Linked DNA regions of Homo sapiens. The protein of the gene in region 4 purifies or fractionates together with the protein of the main gene of each other region. This does not show direct contact. Each region holds a gene or a part of one and is shown on either strand. Other genes may lie near its edges. The genes, in order: GALNT7, CLTRN, TM9SF3 and SLC6A19.

Evidence for each region.
Region 1: the proteins of SLC6A19 (region 4) and GALNT7 purify together in Homo sapiens (affinity purification with mass spectrometry; one large-scale study listed by BioGRID and IntAct). This does not show direct contact.
Region 2: the proteins of SLC6A19 (region 4) and CLTRN purify together in Homo sapiens (affinity purification with mass spectrometry; one large-scale study listed by BioGRID and IntAct). This does not show direct contact.
Region 3: the proteins of SLC6A19 (region 4) and TM9SF3 purify together in Homo sapiens (affinity purification with mass spectrometry; one large-scale study listed by BioGRID and IntAct). This does not show direct contact.

What each region holds. Positions count from the first base shown.
Region 1 is NC_000004.12:173,314,337-173,320,136, forward strand, and holds part of GALNT7 (N-acetylgalactosaminyltransferase 7), read left to right. Parts: intron 1-3,297; coding exon 3,298-3,396; intron 3,397-4,094; coding exon 4,095-4,223; intron 4,224-5,800. UniProt on the Homo sapiens protein: Glycopeptide transferase involved in O-linked oligosaccharide biosynthesis, which catalyzes the transfer of an N-acetyl-D-galactosamine residue to an already glycosylated peptide.
Region 2 is NC_000023.11:15,639,813-15,645,612, reverse strand, and holds part of CLTRN (collectrin precursor), read left to right. Parts: intron 1-583; coding exon 584-697; intron 698-5,800. UniProt on the Homo sapiens protein: Plays an important role in amino acid transport by acting as binding partner of amino acid transporters SLC6A18 and SLC6A19, regulating their trafficking on the cell surface and their amino acid transporter activity.
Region 3 is NC_000010.11:96,575,983-96,581,782, forward strand, and holds part of TM9SF3 (transmembrane 9 superfamily member 3 precursor), read right to left. Parts: intron 848-5,800; coding exon 652-847; intron 1-651.
Region 4 is NC_000005.10:1,221,515-1,225,594, forward strand, and holds the end of SLC6A19 (sodium-dependent neutral amino acid transporter B(0)AT1), read left to right. Parts: intron 1-186; coding exon 187-390; 3' UTR 391-3,597; downstream 3,598-4,080. Other genes in the region: SLC6A18 (inactive sodium-dependent neutral amino acid transporter B(0)AT3), read left to right, coding at 3,964-4,080. UniProt on the Homo sapiens protein: Transporter that mediates resorption of neutral amino acids across the apical membrane of renal and intestinal epithelial cells. This uptake is sodium-dependent and chloride-independent.

The DNA.
Region 1 (5,800 bases), on a different chromosome or scaffold from region 4:
AGACCAGCTGGCCACCATGCTGTCTCCTGGCAGCCTTTGCTCATTGGCCCCCTAGCCTGCAAGACATCCACTCTTCACTCCAGCTCCTGGCGCCTCCATGCCTCTTACTCCAACTCCCTTCCTTAACTAATTTCAATTTATCTTACTGCTCTCAACTTAGAGATCACCAATACTGAAAAGCCCTTCTTACTATTCCCCACTTCATCAAAAAGATGCAGTTCTATGTTCTTTCCAGGGGTTCTCACAACACCCAAAATCACCTATCTCCCAACCAGTCTGAGTGCTTCAGGACCTTGATCACTTGTGTCCAGGTGGACTGATGCAGGGACCCATATACAGTAGATACTCCAACAATGCTTTTCAAATGAATTAAAAATAATTAAAATCAGACAAAAGCACTTTGACAATCAGACATTGTCATTTCTTTGTTTATTCAAACTTGTCTTCAGACTCACTTCTGATTGCTCCCTGCAGCCCCGCTGTATGCCTCACAGGTACACTAAACCTGCCATGAACGTTCAAGTCTACATCCCTCTGCTTAATTATGTTCAGCAAATATTGGTTGAGGGCCTACTATGTGCCAGTCACTCTTCTAGACAGAAAACCAGAGAAGCAAAGTCGTTTTTCTCAGGGAACTGGCATGCTACCTGGGGAGAGAGACCAAAAAAGTCTGAGAAAACAAAAATGATAATGACAGATGGTGATAAATGATAATGACACATAATACTGTCAAGAGGACTTAAGGGCAGGGTAAGGAAAGCCTCTCTGAGGAGGTGACATTCGCTCTCAGATCTGAATGATAAAGAGTCAGCCAATCAGAGAGTGGAGATGAAGGGAAGCTGACCAACTGCGGAAGCATAGTTCATCTGGGAGTGGATTCCTTATGGGTTGGTGTGTGAAGGGATAAGGGCCAGAATGACATCGAGGTTGTTTTGAGTAGCTGATTAGGTGGCTGCTGAGATTGGGAAGATAGTAGGGGAGTGAATGGAGGGGGCAAGGCTTCTGTTGGTGTTCTGGGCATGTGAAGTACCTGCTAGGCGTCCAGGTAGAGCCATTAAGGCCTACTGATCATAGATTGTAGGTTGTATGATGCCAAAGTCCAGAAGAGAGGCCACTCTGGAGATGTGCATTTGGGGCCATCAGCAGGTAGGTCGTTTCATGGGACTGAATGAGGTCCCCGAGGGAGAAAACACAGATAGAGAAGAGAAGACTAGACCCATCCGTCAGAAACGCCAGCATTTAGAGTTCAGGAATAGAAGGAAAAACCAACAGAGGACACTCATGCTGCTCTCTCTGTACTTCTTGCTTTAATATACTTTTTCCCTATACTCTTATTTTACCTGTCCTATTACAGCAAATTATGTTTAACTCCAACTAGACCATAAGCCTTTCAACACACAGATCTCTCTCTGAGGGCCCAGACAAGTATATCCAACTGTATGCTTAACATCAGGACTTGAATGTGTAACAGGCATTTCAAACTCGACATAGCCTAAATTGAACTTCCTATCTCCTCCCCCCAACCCATCTTTGCTGATTTCTTGGTCAAAAACTTTGGAGTCTTCCATGAATCCTGTCTTTGTCTCGCACTTCATATCTAGTTCCAGAATCTGATCCCTTGTTGCCTGGTCTAAGCCACCATCATCTCTCACTGAGACTAACTTGTTGACTCTCCTACAGCCTATTTCAAATACAGCAGTCAGAGTGACTGTTTTAAAATAAAGGCAAATCATGTCCTTCTTCTGCTAGAAACCCTGCACCTTCACCTATGAGTGAAGACAAAGTCCTTTCTGGTAGTCTCCAAGATCCACAACATCTGTCCCCATTCCTCTCTGGCCTCACCTGCTACTGCTCTCCCCACTCCACTCCAGCCCCATGTCCTTACTGGTCCTCAGACTCCCTCCAGGCATGTGCCTGCCTGTGCTGTTCCCTCTGCCAGGAATGCTTCCTTGCAGATACACGCATGCATGGCCAGCTCTCACACCTCCTTCAAGTCTGCTGACCTACCACTTCTCAGTGAGGTCCACCTTGTTACTTCCCAACGCCCTAGCTCCCACCCTAACTTCCTCTTCTTTTCCTTTTTTTCACCACACTTATCACCTTTTGCCATAACAGACAAATTGTCTACTATGTTTTTTAACTTATATTCTGTCTTTTTTCCCTTACATTCCCAGAGTGAATGGAGGCAGGGGCCCACATTCACTGTGGCATGCCCATTACTGGGGTAGGTGTCTTTATTTTGTTCACTAGTGTTTCAGAGCCTACAACATGCCTGGCACACATCAGGTACTTAATATTTGATGATTGAATAAATACATGAATGAATAAATGGAATTTTCTGTCCTCCTTTTACTGTCTCACTCCCAAGTATATCTTCAGTTTAACCTCTTCCCATTCTGACATCTGCACTTTATACTTCATTTCTCGGCATTTCCTTAACATTCCAGGGTAAACCCCTACCTGTTTTAAAGGTGTCTCTTGGGGCAGTCTTTGGAGCTCCTCCAGGCAGGGTGAGCAGCTCTTCCTCTGTACATTCACACCTCTGTCCTGACTGGTCCACTACCCCTCTGTCTCTCTACAGGCGGTGAGGACCATGACTTGCACCTCTTCATATCCTCAAAACCTGTTATCATTATAGGTGCACAGTCCATATTTGCTGACTGAATGCAAGAATAAAACATTTTATCCAAATAGTATAGCGATTTATAATTCAGAGAAATAAATGGCTTTTCCAAAAATAGTTCTTTTCATACAAAATGTACATTCCAAAGATGGAAACCTGTGTTTGCTTTTCATCTACGTTTATAGAGAAAAGCCTCACTGCCTGGTCATGTGCCATGCATGGCCTATGCACCCTAGACCCCTACAGGCAGCTACCAAAAGTGCTGCATAGCCATTTGGGAGAGGTCCCTTACAAATCCAGTCTGTTCTAGATATCTAGGGCCAGGCCAGTGTTTATTACCACTGTGGTTAGGTTCTCTATTTGCTTCTCATTCACATGAATTACTGTGATTCTGAAATTGCAATTAATGGTAACTTTTTTTTTCTCTGTGGTATTTTACGGAAATGTATAGTCCTTTGCTCTTAGAGAAAGAACCCATTCCAGTGTTGACTTCAAGACCATAAGTTATTTCAAAACTATGTAAAGATTGACAATCCAGTAATAACCTGTCACTACACATACCCAGATTTTCCCTGTAAACTGTAATATTTAACATGAAATGTTAAATTCTGATGCCAGAGTTCATCAAAAACTAAACTGTTGCCTGCTTTTTGCGTCTTTATTCATTTTTTTAGATCAGAGGCTTCGAAACTGCTTACTGCATTGATAGCATGGGAAAAACAAATGGAGGCTTTGTTGAACTAGGACCCTGCCACAGGATGGGAGGGAATCAGGTAAACCACCTTACTTTTGTGTTTAAGTTGTTCCGTATTGAGGGCCATCAGGTTTATTGATCACAGAGTGATCTTTGTACTTTGGTTTTCGATTTGGTAATTTTGTTTGTTTTGATAAAGTAAAACATTCTGTAAAAAAATTGACAGTGTTAAAACATTCACTTAAATGATGGGAATAATAGCAGTATTGGTTTTCACATAAGCAGTCAGAATCTAGAATTAATGTCTAATATAAGGGATTAAAATATATTCCTGTGGGAGTATATATTTGTCACTACCGTAACTATGTAAGCCTAGCTCCCTAACAATTTTTTGCAAGTATTGCTCACTAATCCTCATCTTTTTGCAAATAGAGTGTTACTGCCAGTAATGTATATTTCACTAATATATATTCTCTTACTTATGTGGGTATGTTTTTGCTTTTTCATTTTTTCACATTGTTGGTACTTAATAAATTTGTGTTAGTGACCCATTTGGTATCTTAGAGACTAAAGAACTTAATGATTTCAGTGTTAATAAGGATCTTCACTAACATCAAAATAAATATAATTTGTCTGTGGACTTACAGTTCTAAACAAAATTATGGAAAAATAAGTTAGTCATTCAATTTAATTATAGGAGTTAAGTTTCTTTCTTTTCAAATGCACATCAGCAGGGAAGGTGCCTCTGTTACTTAATTCTCTCTTTTCCTTTTACAGCTTTTCAGAATCAATGAAGCAAATCAACTCATGCAGTATGACCAGTGTTTGACAAAGGGAGCTGATGGATCAAAAGTTATGATTACACACTGTAATCTAAATGAATTTAAGGAATGGCAGTACTTCAAGGTATTCTGCATTTTAACTTCTGAAATATTATATGCTTTTCATTTTCAGTAACATCTAGCATGTGGAATTTAGATAAATAAATCTTAAAACCTGCATTCAAATTCACTTGCATTTTCCTCTCATTTAGTCCCTTGCATAGGTTTTCCTGAGCACTGGATGACTCATTGTTCTATAATGAGGCATCACTTTTGTTCTCTCTTACAATATTGTCATGTAATGAGGCCACGATGATGTCTATAAAGAGCACTGCTAATTTTAGTAATACAAGAAAGTCAGTGTTCTGTGAGGCAGTCATCACCATTGCTCTCATCAAAATCTGATTTTTGAAATGTAAATGAATCATTCATTAAAGTAAAATATATTTAAATATATTTATACTATTAAAAATTTGGTTAATATTTGATATTGTCCAGCAGGTGGAGATAGAGACAAACAAATAAAACTTGAAATCTAGGCTTTCATAACGTCTTTATCATTGTTGTGTGCTAAATACAGTGGGATAAATGTAGCTAGTTGCTTACTTTAATGGTCAAATTTAGTTATTCACGTGACACTGCTGGGGTAGCTTTGTGTTTCAGCTGTGAGTATTTAAAGCTCTGTGGCAAGTTGAGGATTACAACATATTAATAGATTTATGTATAGTTTTCAAATTCTAGATTTGGCTAACATAAATCAATTTATTATTAAACAAAAAGTGGGGAAAGCTGCCTCACACTAAAAAAATCTGTCAACCCTCCATTTTATTTACTCACCCAGTATTTGTTATCATATCCCATCTGTCATGCAAGCAAGGACTTGTTTGCTATGTAATAATGATATGACCTAGCTTAACATTCCCTGTTACTGTCATTTACAGATAATTTCCAGGAAGTGATAAGCACGTATCAATTGATGATTTTGTTTCTTATAACAAGTTAGGAAGGAGAAGAATAGCATAAACCTTAAAGAGTGGAGCATTTATTTTCACAAAAAAAAAGGATATATAATAGCAATAAATAGTAGGGGTCAGTGAGAACAATATTAGCAAAATAGTAAAAGAGGGCTAACACACCAGAAACTACATCAAGAAGTAATTGAACAAAAAATGACACATAACATGTTTTAGGTATTTTAAAGACGCAGCACTGAATATACATTTGTGTGTTAGATATTACTGAACATTCACTTGGGGACCAATAATATGTTAGACTGTAGGGGAGTTCAAAAATATAGCTAAAGCACGCTATTATATAATGGCAGAGAAGAAAGAAATGCAAAAATAGAGATAAGCAAAATGCCATAGGACAGAAAAGAGTGATTCATGGGAGGAATTACTGCTGAGGAGTTTCATAGAGGAAGTGTCATTGCACAAGTCCTGAAGTGTAAAAAGGCTTTCCATGGAAAGTAAATAAGAAAGCCTGGATGAGCAAAGATGTGGCATGAAAACATGTAGAAAATTCAAAGAATTGTATTTCATTTGGTATCCCTCAATTGTGCTTTGGAGGAAAGAGCACCGAACTTCATTTTTTAAGTTTTGGAGAGGGATAGACCTTATTTGAGGAAGGTAGTGATGGAAAACAATGGCTACTTTTAGGAAA
Region 2 (5,800 bases), on a different chromosome or scaffold from region 4:
TGTTTAAGTTGGAGGTTTGTTCAAGGCGATGTAAAAGAAACTTGTTTTTGAGAACTTTTTCTTCAAAAGTACACACAGAAGGTGCCTTTTGTCTTGGCCCTGATGCTGGGGTGGAAGAGAGACAGTAGATGCAGACAGAGCAAGTATTGAATCATGAGGGGGCAGCAGATCCTCTCTGGATCTGAGAGGTGGAAGACTGAATGGGCAGGGCACTAAAAAGAGTTGAATGAGAAAATACCAAAGGTTTCTGTGGTTCAGAGAGGGCCAAGCATTGGGGAAACGGGGGCTGTCACCAACCGGTGATGGAGAATGAGATCCCTAATGCTCTCCACTGACTATTATTATTTTTTGGCAGATTCCCTGTTATTCCCTATAAGGAATGATCCCCAAGTATATGATTTTGAAACAATGGGAATTTCCTATATAATTTTCTTCTTACTGAGCTCATTCTTCATAATGGTAGAAATGACTTTTTAAACATAGCTAAGATGTCTCTTAAGATAGTAGTAGCATCAGAGTGAACGGTTTAATGCCATTTGGTATGATATTCTTCTCATGTATTTTTTCTTTCCACTGTCTGCAGAATTTCCCATGTCCTACTTTGCAATGTAACCCAGAGGGTATCATTCTGGTTTGTGGTTACAGACCCTTCAAAAAATCACACCCTTCCTGCTGTTGAGGTGCAATCAGCCATAAGGTAATCACCCTTAAATATGCCTTCTATTAGTCAATCAACTTGCTGATTAATTCAACTGTTTTTAAAAATAGATATTGAAGAGTTTTATCTGTTTCATACATGAATTATTTATTAAAATGACAAAGATTTCATTTTGTTAGTTTCTGTTAGAGATGAGTATAGATCAGTAGTTCTCATCCAGGGGCAATTTTACCTTCAAGGAGACATTTGGCAATATCTGGAGACATTTCGCAATGTCTGGAGACATTTTTATTGTCACAGCTGGAGGGGGTGGTGGTACCACCAGCATTGAGTAAGCAGAAGTTAGGGACCCAATAGCTTACCTTTTTCAGTCAATATATAGTCTTTACTTTAAAAAGATAATTTTTTTTAAAAAAAGGTAAAATCATGACTCTCATGCAAACTAATCATTATTACTATCAAAAATTTTATCTCATTAGTTAATGAGGGCACTAGTAAGATGTTAAATTCTTTTTCAAGGAGACTTCAAGGAACCACCCATATATAGAAAGTGAGGAATGGCAAAATGCATTTACAGAAGGATGCATCAGTCTATTTTTCGGGCAGTAACCAATTATGTTCCACTAGACACAGTTCATTTGATTTTCTATGGACAAGAATCATTTACATTATGTTAGTTTTCAAGAACTTAGGGATTTGCAAAGTAGCTCAAAGACCGTAAGAGATGGAAATTGCCTAGAAAGGTGCTCTCAGCAGGACAATCAGGAAAAAGTCCAGTACTCTGTTTTGCCCATTTCAAGTATTTTACAATTTTTCCCGACTTCCCGACAGTTGTACTCCTCCCCTCCTTATGATCGTAAGAAACTCAAAAGTGAAACGAATTCGAGACTTTCAAGAATTAGGAGGATGCAACTTGTATTTCTTTCAATTACTGTGCCTTTGGTATGTGTCAAAACTTCAAATACCACATGTGATTGATGTTGGGCAAAGATATACTCAAAAAATGAGCTCAGGAAATAAACTAGAACAAAGCAAAGTAGCTCTCCCCACACAAGATTTACAAGTTACTGAAATACATATTATTCTTTTTACCAAGGATAAATACCTACTGGAATAACTCATTAGCTCTCTGTAAAATGTTAACACTTAAGATAATGAGTATATAATCAAATGTCAAAGGTTTTTGTGAACATCATCTATTTCTTTTGCTGAAGCAAAGGCACTGAGGATTTATACTGATTGGAAATGGTTGAATCTGCCCTAACAAGAAAGTTTGAACTAAATTGCTTCTTCACTGTGGCCACTAAGAATACTGTTAAGACTCTCACCACTTAGGGAGTAAGAATTATAAATATCATATTTCATGTGAAAAAAGATTTTATTCATGTCTTGTGATCTGTGAGGGCTACAGGGAAAATGAAGGCACTGGGTTAAACCAGTCCTTCAGTTGATAGGAGGAGGAAGAGTGAGTGCTTAGGGTGAAGGTCTGGGAAGTATTAATACATGAATATGTTCACAACAAAATGTCTTTTTCAAGGGTCCTAGCAGGAGAATCTATTTAGGAAGTGGGGATAGCCAATAGAATGAGAATTTATGTCAGGGAATTAGTAGGGCACATCAGGATTGGATGAAAATAAAGGAAACTATACAACAAAGGAAGGATAGAGTGAAAAAAAGGAGATGGTGTTTAGAGAGCAAATAATAGGAATTTCAAGGCTGAAGAATCTAAGTGATTGGGCAAAATAATACTAGTTCCACCTAATATTTGCATACCACTTTTTGGTTCACAAGGAATGTTCTTATGCATCTGTGGCATTTAATAATGACACCAACAGTTTTTTTTTGTTTTCTTTTTAAGAGGCAGAGTCTGGCTTTGTTGCCCAGGCTATAGTACAGTAGCATGATAATAGCTCATTGCAGCCTTGAACTCCTGGGGTTCAAGTGATCCTCTTGTCTCAGCCTCCTGAGTAGCTGGGACTACAGGGATGTGCCACTATGCCTGGCTAATTTAAATTTTTTTTTTTTTTTGTAGAGACAGGGTCTTACTATGTTGCCCAGGCTGCCCTTGAACTGGCCTCAGGCGATCCTCCTGCCTCAGACTCCCAAAGTGCTGGGATTACAGGCATGAGCCATTGCACCCAGCCAACACCAATAATTTTTCAGTAATTACTATTATCTCTCCTTTATAAATGAAGAAACTGAGGCTCAGGGAGATTAATTGATTTGTTAAGGCCACCATGCTAGAAAGAGAAAGTGAGGACTTGAACCTAGGCATCCTGCCACCATATCCAGTGATTTTTCCTGTTTACCAGAGTACACAAAGAACTGAAACAGACATCTTAGAATTGGTTGGTCATTCCTTTACACAAAGTGCTTAGGGTGAAGGTCCAGGAAGCACGTGAATTTGTTCACAAAATGTCTATTTCAAAGGTCCTAGCAGGATAAACTATTTAGGAAGTGGGGATAGCCAACAGAATGAGAATTACAAAATTCTCATTTCAAGTAAAATAATTGAAATGGGCAAAAAAGAGTACTGGACTTTTTACCAATACAGAGTATACATAGTATGAGGTAAAGGAGTGACCAACTAATTCCAAGATGTCTGTTTTAGTTCTTTTGTGAGGGCGTGGCCTAATTCAATACCACTCTTGGCTGAAAGACATACATGATGCTTGATGCCAATTGGTGATTCCAGTGGTGGAGCAGATTTAATATGTACCTGAGCTAGAACTTCCAGTCAGTCTGTGAGATGATAGAATACATTCCAAGCCTAGAGTGAGCAAGTAACAAAGGGTTAACCAACTAGGAAGATAGAATGAGAATGCAGAGCAACTTCTCATTTTTCTCTGAGTTATATCTTAGCAGTGGGTTTCATTATTTTGTGGAAAAGTTTGTGCTCTCAGATGTTCAATATTAGGTTATGACAAAATAAAATATTCCATTGTTGGATAAAAATCCCTTGTTGTAGATTATCTGGCTAGAGTTCACTTTCACATCCATGAATAATCATGCCACAGCATAGTTATTTATTTACTAAAGGGGGTCTTTCCTGATAGCCTGGTGCTGGCCTGCAGAGATTCTCAAGCCATACTATCAGGCTGTAGACTTGGACTGTCCGGTACCGTAGCCACCAGCCAAATGTGGTTATTAAGCACCTGAAATGTGGCTAGTTCAAAGTCAGGTGTGCTCACAGTGTAAAACATAAGCCAAATTTCAAAGACATTGTACAAAATAAAATGTGGAGCCCCAGCCTGGGCAATATAGCAAGACCCTGTTTACACACACACACACACACACACACACACACACACACACACAGCCAGGTGTGGTGGCACACACCTGTGGTCCTAGCTACTTGGGAGGTTGATGCAGGAGGATTGCTTGAGCCCAGGAGTTTGAGGCTGCAATGAACCATGATCGTTCCTGTCTCAAAAAACAAACAAACAAACAAACATGCAAAGTCAACTTGATACTGTTTACATGTTGAAATTACATTTTCTTGGATATATTGGACAAAAAATACATTATTAAAATTAGTTTCATCTGTTTATTTTAGTGCAGCTACTAGAAAATTTTAAGTCACACGAAGCTCACATTATATTTCTGTTTTCCAGGGCTGCTCTAGAGGTAGACAAAGGCAGCTTGCATAATATGAATTCAGTAAAGGTCATAAAATATCTCCAAGGACTCTCCAGTTTACAGTTAGAAATTCACTTATTTGGTTTCAATTAAATAAGTCTTTGCTACCAACCTCTCCTTAACTGCCACCACCACTAAAAATGCAGATATTTCCTAGGAAAAGTAACATTTTTCTAAGCTTTTGAACTCCTAAATCATTAATGTCTTTAGTCCTATGGAACTACTTGCAATTTGCTGAACAAGTCTTACTTTACCTTGTTTCCATTCCTGTGCTCACCACATACTTTGGTCTAAAAACTCCTACTTGTCCCTCAAAACAGAGCTCAAAAATGGCCTCCACAGCAAAGCAGCTCTGACTTCTCACAATGGTGTACTTGGCCCTTCCCTCTGCTCACACTGTGCCCATATTTGCCTCTTTCACAGAACATTTTGTACCACACTGTGGTTGTGGATCTACTGATCTGTCACCCTTCTAGACCGTAAGCTCCTTGGTACTTTAATTTCACGTTGTATCTCCAGCATCTAGCACAGTATTTGATATTTAATAAGTTTTTGGCAAATGTTTGTTGAATTAATGAAAAAAATATCAAGATCAAGTTGGTGAATTTGAAGCCACTCCTGGTTCATGTTTTCATTTTTGCTTCTGGTTTTCTTTACTTCTCCTATTCATCACCCATATTTTACATGTAATTTTACTTTTGGGGGCTGTGATATTTATGTAAGCCACCTTAAATAGAGCTTTGTCATTCTAATCTAGATGCTACTCACACAGGACAGGTGAAACCCAAATTGAGGCTTAGCCCATGAGGATTCTGGGCTTTGCCCAGGAAAAAAATTCAAGAGAGAGCCAGAAGTAGAAGAAAACAACTTTACTGAAGAGGCAGTATTATAGCTCCTGTGATGTTACTGCTCTGTGACTGCTCCTGCAGAGCAGGACTACCCTGTAGGCAGAGACTAGCAGCTCAGGGCAGTTTTGCAGTCATATTTATACCCACTTTTAATTACATGTAGATTAAGGAGCAGTTTATGCAGAAATTTCTAGGGAAGGGTAATAACTTTGGGGTCATCACATCATTGCTATGGAAAGGGGTGGTAACTCCCAGGTGTTGCCATGGCAATGGTAAACTGACATGGCACACTGGTGGGCATGTCTGATGGAAAGCTGCTTCCCCGCCACCCCCTAGCTCTGTTTTAGTTAGTCCTCAGTTTGGTCCAGGGTTAGAGCCCTGCCTCCAGAGACGAGTCCCTCCGTCTACCTTACTACCTCTCAGGAAATAAAACATGGTGGACAGAGCTCAAAGCTCAGGACTTCTGGACATTCACAACAATGGGGGCAGCAGTGGATACATGGGTATCCCTCTGGCAGCTAGTGTTGTAACTTAAGAGAAACTATGGCATGATTGCCCTCAGCAAACTTTTTAGTCAACTTGAAGTCTCCTGCCAGGAGGATGCTTTGTTTATAGAGATATTTATAATCATGGAGAAACAGGTTTGTACTTTGTC
Region 3 (5,800 bases), on a different chromosome or scaffold from region 4:
TCCCCAAATTTAACAAGTCTTTGACTTAAAATTTAAATATCCTATAGGTATTAACAGGATAAATTAATACAACACTGATAAATAATACATGTTAAGCCTATGGTACAAGTTTGAATTTGAGGCGTCACACAAGAATTTTAAGTATCCACGCATCCCATTACAGCCTCAGACCTCCAGAAATTACTTTGTTAAATATCCATGAAGGTCTTCCCGGGCCACATGTGTCTAATCAATAGGGGGTTTACTAGACAACACTTTTCAGAAGGAAATATGTTAAGGAAATACAATTTTATTAACAATTATCTATTTTATTATCTTATAAATATTCAAAGGAAATCTTTGTTAATTACTAATATACTTTCCTAAATGCAATACACCTCATTTACAGACTAAAACACATTTTAGAGTCTAAAGTAGTGGTTCTCAACTGACAGCAATTAGCAATGTCTGGTGACTTTTTTGGTTTTCACAACTGGAAGGTGCTACTGGCATCTGGGGGGTACAGGCCAGGGACTCTGCTAGACATCCTAACATGTACATAACAGCTCCATACAACAAAGAATTATCCAACACCAGTGTCAATAGTGCCAAAATATGAAACCCTTGTCTACAATCCAAATTGCATTGTAAGGACTATTAAGGTTTACTTACCTTTAAATTTAATATCCAGACCACTAAATTCCAATTCAACCCCTTGAAGTGCTTCTCCCAGAGTTTCATGGTAATGACTGATACTTTTTTTTGACCCCACACAGAATGGAAGTGAAAAGTACTTATATGTTTCTTGACGATTATGGTAGGGCCCAACAGTATTCATCCATAAGACAACTTCCTCTTTATCTTGATACTGAAACAAGAAAAGCAAACAAGAATTAAAAAAAAAAAACACACTAATTCAAATTAAGGGAATATTTGTTGTGTGTTCTAAACAAAAGTGCATCATCTCTGTTCAGGAAGCTATAAAATAAATACTGGAAGCTTAATCTGATGATGAATGTCCACATCTTAAAAATGAAACTTTGTGAATTTTAAAATTATATCCTCTGATTGTAGTCTCAGGCAGATACACCTTTTCCAAACTTGTTTTATAGAAGACAGTGTTTGAACTAAGCCCAATAGCTCATAAGAGTGTGTCTATTATTTACATTTACACTATCAAATAGTGGCAAACCTGCAACCAGCATGATTCACCATGCTAACATGGACAAGGAAGGAGGAAACAAAATCAAGTTTATCCAGAACCTCATGTTAATCAATTAAAAAAAAAAAAAAACCTAATGTTGCCAGCAAGCATAAATAAAATTTCATCTCCTTGCGAGACTTTCACACAGCCACTGGTCAAAGTACTACAGAGGACAAGGAAGAAGACTGCTATAGAACCTCCACAAGTCCATTCAAGCCAACATTCTATCTTGTTAGCAGCCTGAAAGACATGCACTATATGCATATTTCTTTGAATAAGTAATTATGGAACTACATATCAGTGAATATTATACATGGCTAAATCTGAAGTGTGGTCAGTAATGACTTTGAGTAGTTCCAAGGTACAAGTGGGAGGCCTGTCAAAGATTTCTAAGATCTCGACAAGTTTAAAGTTCCAATGATTCTATGGAAACTGATTACCATGGTAATTTTAAAACTAATAATTCTAAGTAGCAGTATAAATTAAAGACAACATTGGATGCATTTAAATCAACTAATAGTGCAGACATTAATTCACTGAACAATTATTTACTAAGTGCTTAGCATGTGAAACAACTGTGTTTATAACTGAGGATACAGCTTTGAACAAGATGTGTTCCCTGTCCTACTGGGGGAAGGATGGGCATTAAACAAGCAATAATAATAAGGTAGGTTGCTATGGGGCACATAATAGAAGAAGTGATCCAACTGGCCCACTATGAAATCCTTATCTCCAGTCCTCCATCTAAAACTAGTTAATAAATAAATATTTTCAATCAAAACCTAACATCTCCAAAACCAAACTCATCTACCCAAATCCACTTCCCCCAGCTTCATTTTTCTAATGGTACTACCATTCTCTCAGCCATGGAGACTCAAACCCCAAATCTCTCTGCACTCTAGGGAACCCAAAAACATTAACTTGTATGTTCTTACCAAAAACATCTGCCTTTTTCTTTTGATTCACACGATTATCACCCTAAGACTTAGACCCAGTCATTTCATTTTCAAACATAAATGCCTCACTGTTCATATAAGACAACAGCCAGGTCATTAAGGAAATAACAAATGATCTCACCTTTTGAACACATGTGACAGGTACCAAGTATCGCGTTAGGTATTAAGAATATAAAAGTAAGTAAAATACTGTCGTTTCCTTAAGAAGTTCATAATCCACAGTGGAATCAGACAAGTAAATGATTAACAAAGAAAAAATAAGTATTATAATTAAGGTAATAAAGGGCTATTGTAGCAACAATAAAGGAATGATTAAATTCACTTTGGCAGAGAAGGTCAGGACGAATAACAATTTGGAAAATCATAAGCTGTTTCAAGGGAGTTCAGAAAAACAACTGTAGATAATCTTCACATAGGAAGTAATGAATCAAAGGTCTAAATGTTAATGTAGCAGTATATCCCCATTCATTACTATTCTTTTTATTTGGGGAGACTGACAAATATATGTATGCCCCCACTCTTCCATCCAATGCTCATGGGCCACACAATACTAATCAACCAAGTTACTCCTTTCTGCTGAACATAGATATTGCCTCAGAGTTCTCAAAACAGTGCTCTAAACCAATCATTACCAACTGATGAGAGTTGGTATTAGAATTAAAACTTGTTCATGGCCGGGTACGGTGACTCACACCTGTAATCCCAAGACCTTGGGACGCCAAAGCAGGCGGATCACTTAAGGTTAGGAGTTTGAAATCAGCCTGGCCAACATGGTGAAACCCTGTCTCTACTTAAAATACAAATATTAGCAGGGTGTCGTGGCACACACCTTGTAATCCCAGCTACTTGGGAGGCTGAGGCAAGAGAATCACTTGAACCTGGGAGGTGGAGGTTGCAGTGAGCCTGAGATTGCGCCACTGCACTCCAGTCTGGGTAACAGGGCGAGACTCAGTCTCACAAGAAGAACCTATTCACCAAGGCAAATAGATATTTAATAAATATGATGGGAAAACACTGAAGAAATGCTGAAATGTAAAGTTCATTGGCAACTTGGTAAAAGAAGTTTGAAGTATGTGAAATGACTGCTATGTACCCTGACTGTAAGAGTACCTTTTCAGAAAAATAAGGGGAGGTAACATAATTCATCTATTTAAGAGCAGAATGTTGAATGAGACGACCTATTAAAGAGCACCTTGCCATTAACCCTGCTGAGTCTGCAGAAATGTTATAAATGTAACTTGTGAAAATAAGCACAAAAATACTTTTTCTATAAATTCCAATACTTTTCCTTTAAAAATAGACAACATTTTTGAAAATAAATACCTTTAAAAATAGGGCATCCATTTATTTTATACAAATTAAAACATAAGGACTAAAATAATTTAAGGGTCCCAGTCGATGTTAAACCACATATTCCGAAGTTACTCATTTTAAACATTCAGGAATCCTTAACAGAGTGGTAGAGTTGTGATGTGATGCCCGTACTGTAATAAAATTTATATCATTTTGTAGTCTAAGATTCTTTCTGGGAAGAGGACTGAAACAGTAATTAGAAATACACATACTGAGAGTTTAGGGTGAATAGCAAGGCAAAAATAATGCTTTTTTCTTTTGTTTTGCTCCTTACTATGCAGACTGTGGTTTAATACAATTAACTTAAAATGTTTACTTTTCATTGCAGACCTTGATTGTCCCTGAGAATAAGTGCTTCCAAGACAAGATCAAGAGTTCTCTCTCAAAAGAAAATGTTTTAAAATATTTTGAAATTAAAAAATACCAAAAGACTTCACACAACTTCTGAAGGAGAAAACAAAACAAACAAAAATCTTTCCTTTCCCTAAAGCTTTGATAAAGCCCCTGAGCTCCACAGTCTGTGGGAAGAGAGTGCTAGGCCCAGAAGAAGGTGGGGTGGAGTCACAGAAGCACAGCAGTGTATCAGGGGATCCCTAAGCACGATAATAATCCCTTTCATCTGAGGCTTCCCTGGGAAACGGCCAAGTGAGAGGAGGCCAATTCAGGCTACCGGCATTCTTCACCTACTTATTTTCCAGCTCTCAGAAGAATCTCACTGCTACACTTACGTCATCCACGCTGGCCAAAACGGTTTATGATATTGTCTTCCTCCCCTTTTCTGCTTCATCTTTGTGTGTGTGTGTGTGTGTGAGACGGAGTCTTGCTCTGTCGCCCAGGCTGCAGTGCAGTGGTGCAATCTCGGCTCACTGAAAGCTCCGCCTCCCAGGTTCACGCCATTCTCCCGCCTCAGCCTCCTGAGTAACTAGGACTACAGGCGCCCACCACCACACCCGGCTAATTTTTTGTATTTTTTAGTAGAGACGGGGTTTCACCATGTTAGCCAGGACGGTCTCGATCTCCTGACCTCGTGATCCACCCGCCTCGGCCTCCCAAAGTGCTGGGATTACAGGCGTGAGCCACTGCGCCTGGCCCCACTTCATCTTCTTTCGTCATTCCACCAAATTTAGAATGCCCTCCTTTTCTCCACTTAGCCAAACTCTAATAATCCTTCCGAAATGCTCAAATCCTCCTTTTTCAAATCCTCAAGTAAAGCCTTAACTCACCAAACCCTAACATGACATGATCTCACCATTTTTGTAATAATAACATCAGTAGCTAACAATAAATACATACTATGAGCTAGGTATAGTTCTAAGGTCTTTATATGAACACTTAAATAATCATCTCAAAATTCTATAAAATAGGTCCTATTACTTCCCCATTTTACAGACTAAAAACAAAAACAAAACTAAAGAACAGAGATGTTAAGTAATTTGTCCAAATCAATCAGCATCAAGTTTAAAAGGTTAGTATTTTTGCTAATCCCTAGTCAGCTTCATTCATTAAAGAGCAAAAAACTAAATCAAGGAAATATGAAAACAGTGCCAGGTGTACAAAGCAACTAAAGACAGTCCTGAACACTGAATAACTTTTCTATGTGAGCCTTTAATCTGCCTGAAAGAAAAAAAACCTTCTAAGAAGCTATTTGCACTCTAATCTCAAAAGGAATGACCTTTATTCTCAAGAAGTCACCAATGTTGGGCCCCTCTTATTTAAATACTGTTTATGTGTTGGGGGGGTACCAAAGTTTTCCTCCTTGACAGAGGTAATGAATTAATTATTATCAGGAGAAACGCTTTAGAAGATAATATGCTGACGTGGTCATGTGAAATCTGAATAAGAAATCACAATTTACATAGATGAGCAAAGGACTGAGGGTTCAGAACAAGCACCCAAATGCTATCCTTCATTTTCATACAAAGGGGGAAAAATATATGTGTTTACTTCAAAATAATGTTCCAGAAATCATAATTTCAAAACCTTTAAATTATTAAAACACACATCAGAATTCTAATACAAATAAATTAGAAATGTAATTTTGAATAGTCTCTTGAGATAACTACTCTCTCTCAAAAATAGCTTTGTACCTAAATAAACTTTCAGTCTATCATTGAGTAGAGCTGAAAATAGGACAACGAATTACGGCATTTAACAATCTACATTAGATAACTCACAAATTCACTTATAGTAAACAGCTTATACTCTTTATAAGTTTTCAGTAAGTTTTAAGAGTTCCTATACTCCCAACAGAGACAAAGACAAAAGGTTTCCATTTGCCAAAGTAAATCAAACAAAACATTTCTGAAAT
Region 4 (4,080 bases):
TCCCAGGAGGGAGGTGGGTGGGCTGGGAGTTGGGAGGTAGGGGAAAGGGGAAGCTGGAGGAGCCCCAGGCCACCCTGCCTGCCCCACAGGACAGGAGGTGAGAGTCATGGGGTGAGGGGCCTTTGCCTCAAAGTGAACCCCACTGGCTCCCGGGATGCCTACTCACCCATGGGGCTCTCTCCCCAGGAGGAATTTCCCAAATCCCAGAAGATCTCCTACCCGAACTGGGTGTATGTGGTGGTGGTGATTGTGGCTGGAGTGCCCTCCCTCACCATCCCTGGCTATGCCATCTACAAGCTCATCAGGAACCACTGCCAGAAGCCAGGGGACCATCAGGGGCTGGTGAGCACACTGTCCACAGCCTCCATGAACGGGGACCTGAAGTACTGAGAAGGCCCATCCCACGGCGTGCCATACACTGGTGTCAGGGAAGGAGGAACCAGCAAGACCTGTGGGGTGGGGGCCGGGCTGCACCTGCATGTGTGTAAGCGTGAGTGTATGCTCGTGTGTGAGTGTGTGTATTGTACACGCATGTGCCATGTGTGCAGATATGTATCGTGTGTGCATGTACATGCATGGGCACTGTGTGAGTGTGCACGTGTATGCACACATATACATGTGTGTGGGTGTGTGTATTGTATGTGCATGTGCCATGTGTGCAGATGTGTCATGTTGTGTGTGTGCATGTACATGTATGGACATTGTGTGAGTGTGCAAGTGTGCATGCATATACATGTGTGCGATATTTGCTGCCCGTGTGTGTGCATGTATATATAGACATACATGCCTATGTTGTGTGTGGTGTGCATATGTGTGAACACACACGTGTATACATGCATGCACATGTGCTCGTACAATGGGTGTCCACATGCACGTGTATATGTATATCTGTGAGTGTATATACATGCATGCAATTGTGTGTATGTGTGTTCTGTGTGTGCGTTTGCAAGTATATATGCACATGTGTATATGTACATGTATGCCTGTGTGACGTGTGTATATGTGAGCATGTGTACGTGTGTGTATACGTGTGTTGTGTATATGTGTGTGTCTGTACCTGTTTGTGTATATGTGTGTGATGTGTGCTCGTGTGTGTGCATATTCAGGCAGGTGTGCATTTGTGCATGCCAGTGTGTATGTATGTGCGCATATGGACACGCATGGACACGCATATGGACACATATGGACACACATATGGACACGTGTGGATATGTGTGCGTACACGTCGCTGGGACACATGCCTGCCACTCGGGGCCCAGCTGCCCTCTGTGTTTGTCCTTGCCACAGTCACGGGGTGCATGTGCAGAGGGGAGCAGACCACTGGGGACGTGCTGTGCCCTGCACGTGCCCGGGGGAAGCGGAAGCTGCAGCTGGGGTGGGGGCAGCACCTCTATGCTTCATCTCTGTGGGTGGCAGGAGACAAAAGCACAGGGTACTATCTTGGCTCCTGGGAGCGACTCTTGCTACCCACCCCCACCCATCCCCTTCCCCTTGGTGTTGACCTTTGACCTGGGGGTTCCCAGAGCCCTGTAGCCCTCGACCCGGAGCAGCCTCTCGGAAGCCGGAGTGGGCAGTTGCTGGCGATTCTGAGAAAACTTGGCCGCATCCACCGGGGCCCTGCCTCCAGTCGGCCGCTGCCGAGTCTCTGCGTTCTGGCCGCTTCCCGGCTTAATGAATGCCAGCCATTTAATCATTGCTCCTGCCACCACAAATAGATGAGCAGTTAAATAAAACTCAACTTGGCATAATTCAAGGCAAATACCACTCTGTGCATTTTCTTAAGAGGACATGAGCTGTGTGAATTTTTAGCCAGCCTTTGGAAAAGATGGGTTACAGGGTAACTCAACCCTGGCTGCCATCCTTGGGCACTGTGTGTGTCCAGGGCACCTTGGAGGACCGTGCAGCCCCCAGAAGCTTCCAGCTCCCGCACCACTCAGTGAAGCCCAGCCTGGCGCCTGCCCTGCCCCCGTCACGGGATGGGCCCCCATTGGGGTTCAACATTCCATCGCAGCCAAAGGCAGTCGGCACTTGGGACATCTGCTTCCACGGACAGGTCACCTCCGCTTTGCACGGAAGAATCTGGATGCTTACATTAAACTGGTGTTCTGAGAGTTCCTACGGACAGGTCACCTCCGCTTTGCATGGAAGAATCTGGATGCTTACATTAAACTGGTGTTCTGAGAGTTCCTACGGACAGGTCACCTCTGCTTTCCATAGAAGAATCTGGACGCTTACATTAAACTGATGTTCTGAGAATTCCTACAGGCAGGACTGAAAGCCTGGTGTGTGCCAGTATGATGTTCCACCCACAGAAACCTGGTCACAATCGTCCCTTCCAGCACCCCATCCAGCAGTGACTGCACACACTGAGTCCCCTACCAGCCCCTTTCACCCTGCTGACTGTCACTGGGCCCTGGGATGCGCAAGACTCCACAGCAGCAGAGGTGGGGGGACATATCACAGCCTCTGCCCCCGGCTGTGATGCCACCGAGGGGCTCGCCTGCTGATGGCTTCAACAGGGTCTCACCTCATCTTTTCCTGCTCTTTGGCCCTGGATCGAGAAAATTTCCATCAGTGCCCCATTAATATGCTGCCCTGTGGCATCTGCCCAGGAGGCCCTGCCAGGCGTGCACAGGTGTGCATTGGTGTACCCTGGCATGCACAGGTGTGCACTGATGTGCCCTGGCATCCATTGGTGTACCCTGGTGTGCCTGCCATAGGACCCTGGGCGGGAGCTCCCATCTCATCTACATCTCCTGATTCATGCGTTGTTTCATAGGTTTCAATGTCTCTGTAAATGTGGTAGAAATGCAGGCTTTATGGGCATAAAGTGTACATTTCTAAATAAATCCCTTCTATTGAGTATGCTCACCCTAGAAGTTACTGTTGTCCAGACGTAGAGGGATGAGTGAGCCAGTGACCTCAGACGGGATGGTGGGGACGGCAGGTCCAGCTCCTGCCTCCTCCTGGGGGGTCTGGCTTTGGGGGCTTGCTCCGAAGAGGCCATGGCCCAGGCCTGTGGCCTCACAATGGGGACCAACCAGCTCTTCTCATCTTCTTCCCTCACACTTCCTCTCACTCAAATAAGAACCTTCCAAAAATGTGTCCACCTGGGCCCCTGCCCTGGGACTCATGGATTTGGAGTTGTGGCCACACGGTTGAGGGGTGCAGTGTCCAGTGGAATGGGGCAATTGCGGGCCTGGGGGCCCTTGGCCTGTCCGTGGCGGGAGCATCTGCAAGGAGGAGCCCCAGAGTCCAGGGAGCACTGTGGGGAGCTCCTTAGAGCTGAACTCACCCGGCGTCAACTCATCAACCCTCCACCCATGGACAGGGGTGCCCCCAGCACAGGAGAGGACTCAGCCCTCTGCCCCCACGCACGGTGGGTGCCTGTCACCCTGTCCTGCCCAGCGGCCCGAGGGCAGCAGTGGGTGTGAGGGCAGCCCCCGGCCTCCCAAGAGCAGCTGAGAGGATCCCTGCGGGAATCCGGGCTTCGGGTGCATGCGATCTGATCTGAGTTGTTTCTGACAGTGACAGAGTGACAATCTATAAGTATCTCAAGATCAAATGGTTAAATAAAACATAAGAAATTTAAAACGATTAAAATATGCCTCAGTCTTGGGAATCCTGGTGTCTGCAACAAAAAAACTTGAGGCTGTCCTTGCAAACGGTCCTCATGGTGCTGGGGGTGGTGCCAGGCCCGGCGTTTGCCTGGAACACAGAGCATGCGAGAAGGAGCAGAGGACGTGGGTGCCAGGGAAGGACCCTGGCGTCAGAGCCAGGGCCTGGACCTGAGTTACCCATTAACGGCACTCCACTGGTTTTCCTTTAAAGAAATGAATAAATACAACTGCAGTGGGGCTGCTTGTGGTTTCCAAACGTCGGCAGAGGCTGGAGACGGCTCTCTAGTGCTGGGTGTGGAGTGAGGCACCACCCTTGCCCTGAAGCCTGGGGCACTCAGTCACCATGGCTCATGCCCCAGAACCGGACCCGGCCGCCTGCGACCTCGGGGATGAGAGGCCCAAGTGGGACAACAAGGCCCAGTACCTCCTGAGCTGCACTGGGTTTGCCGTGGGACTGGGG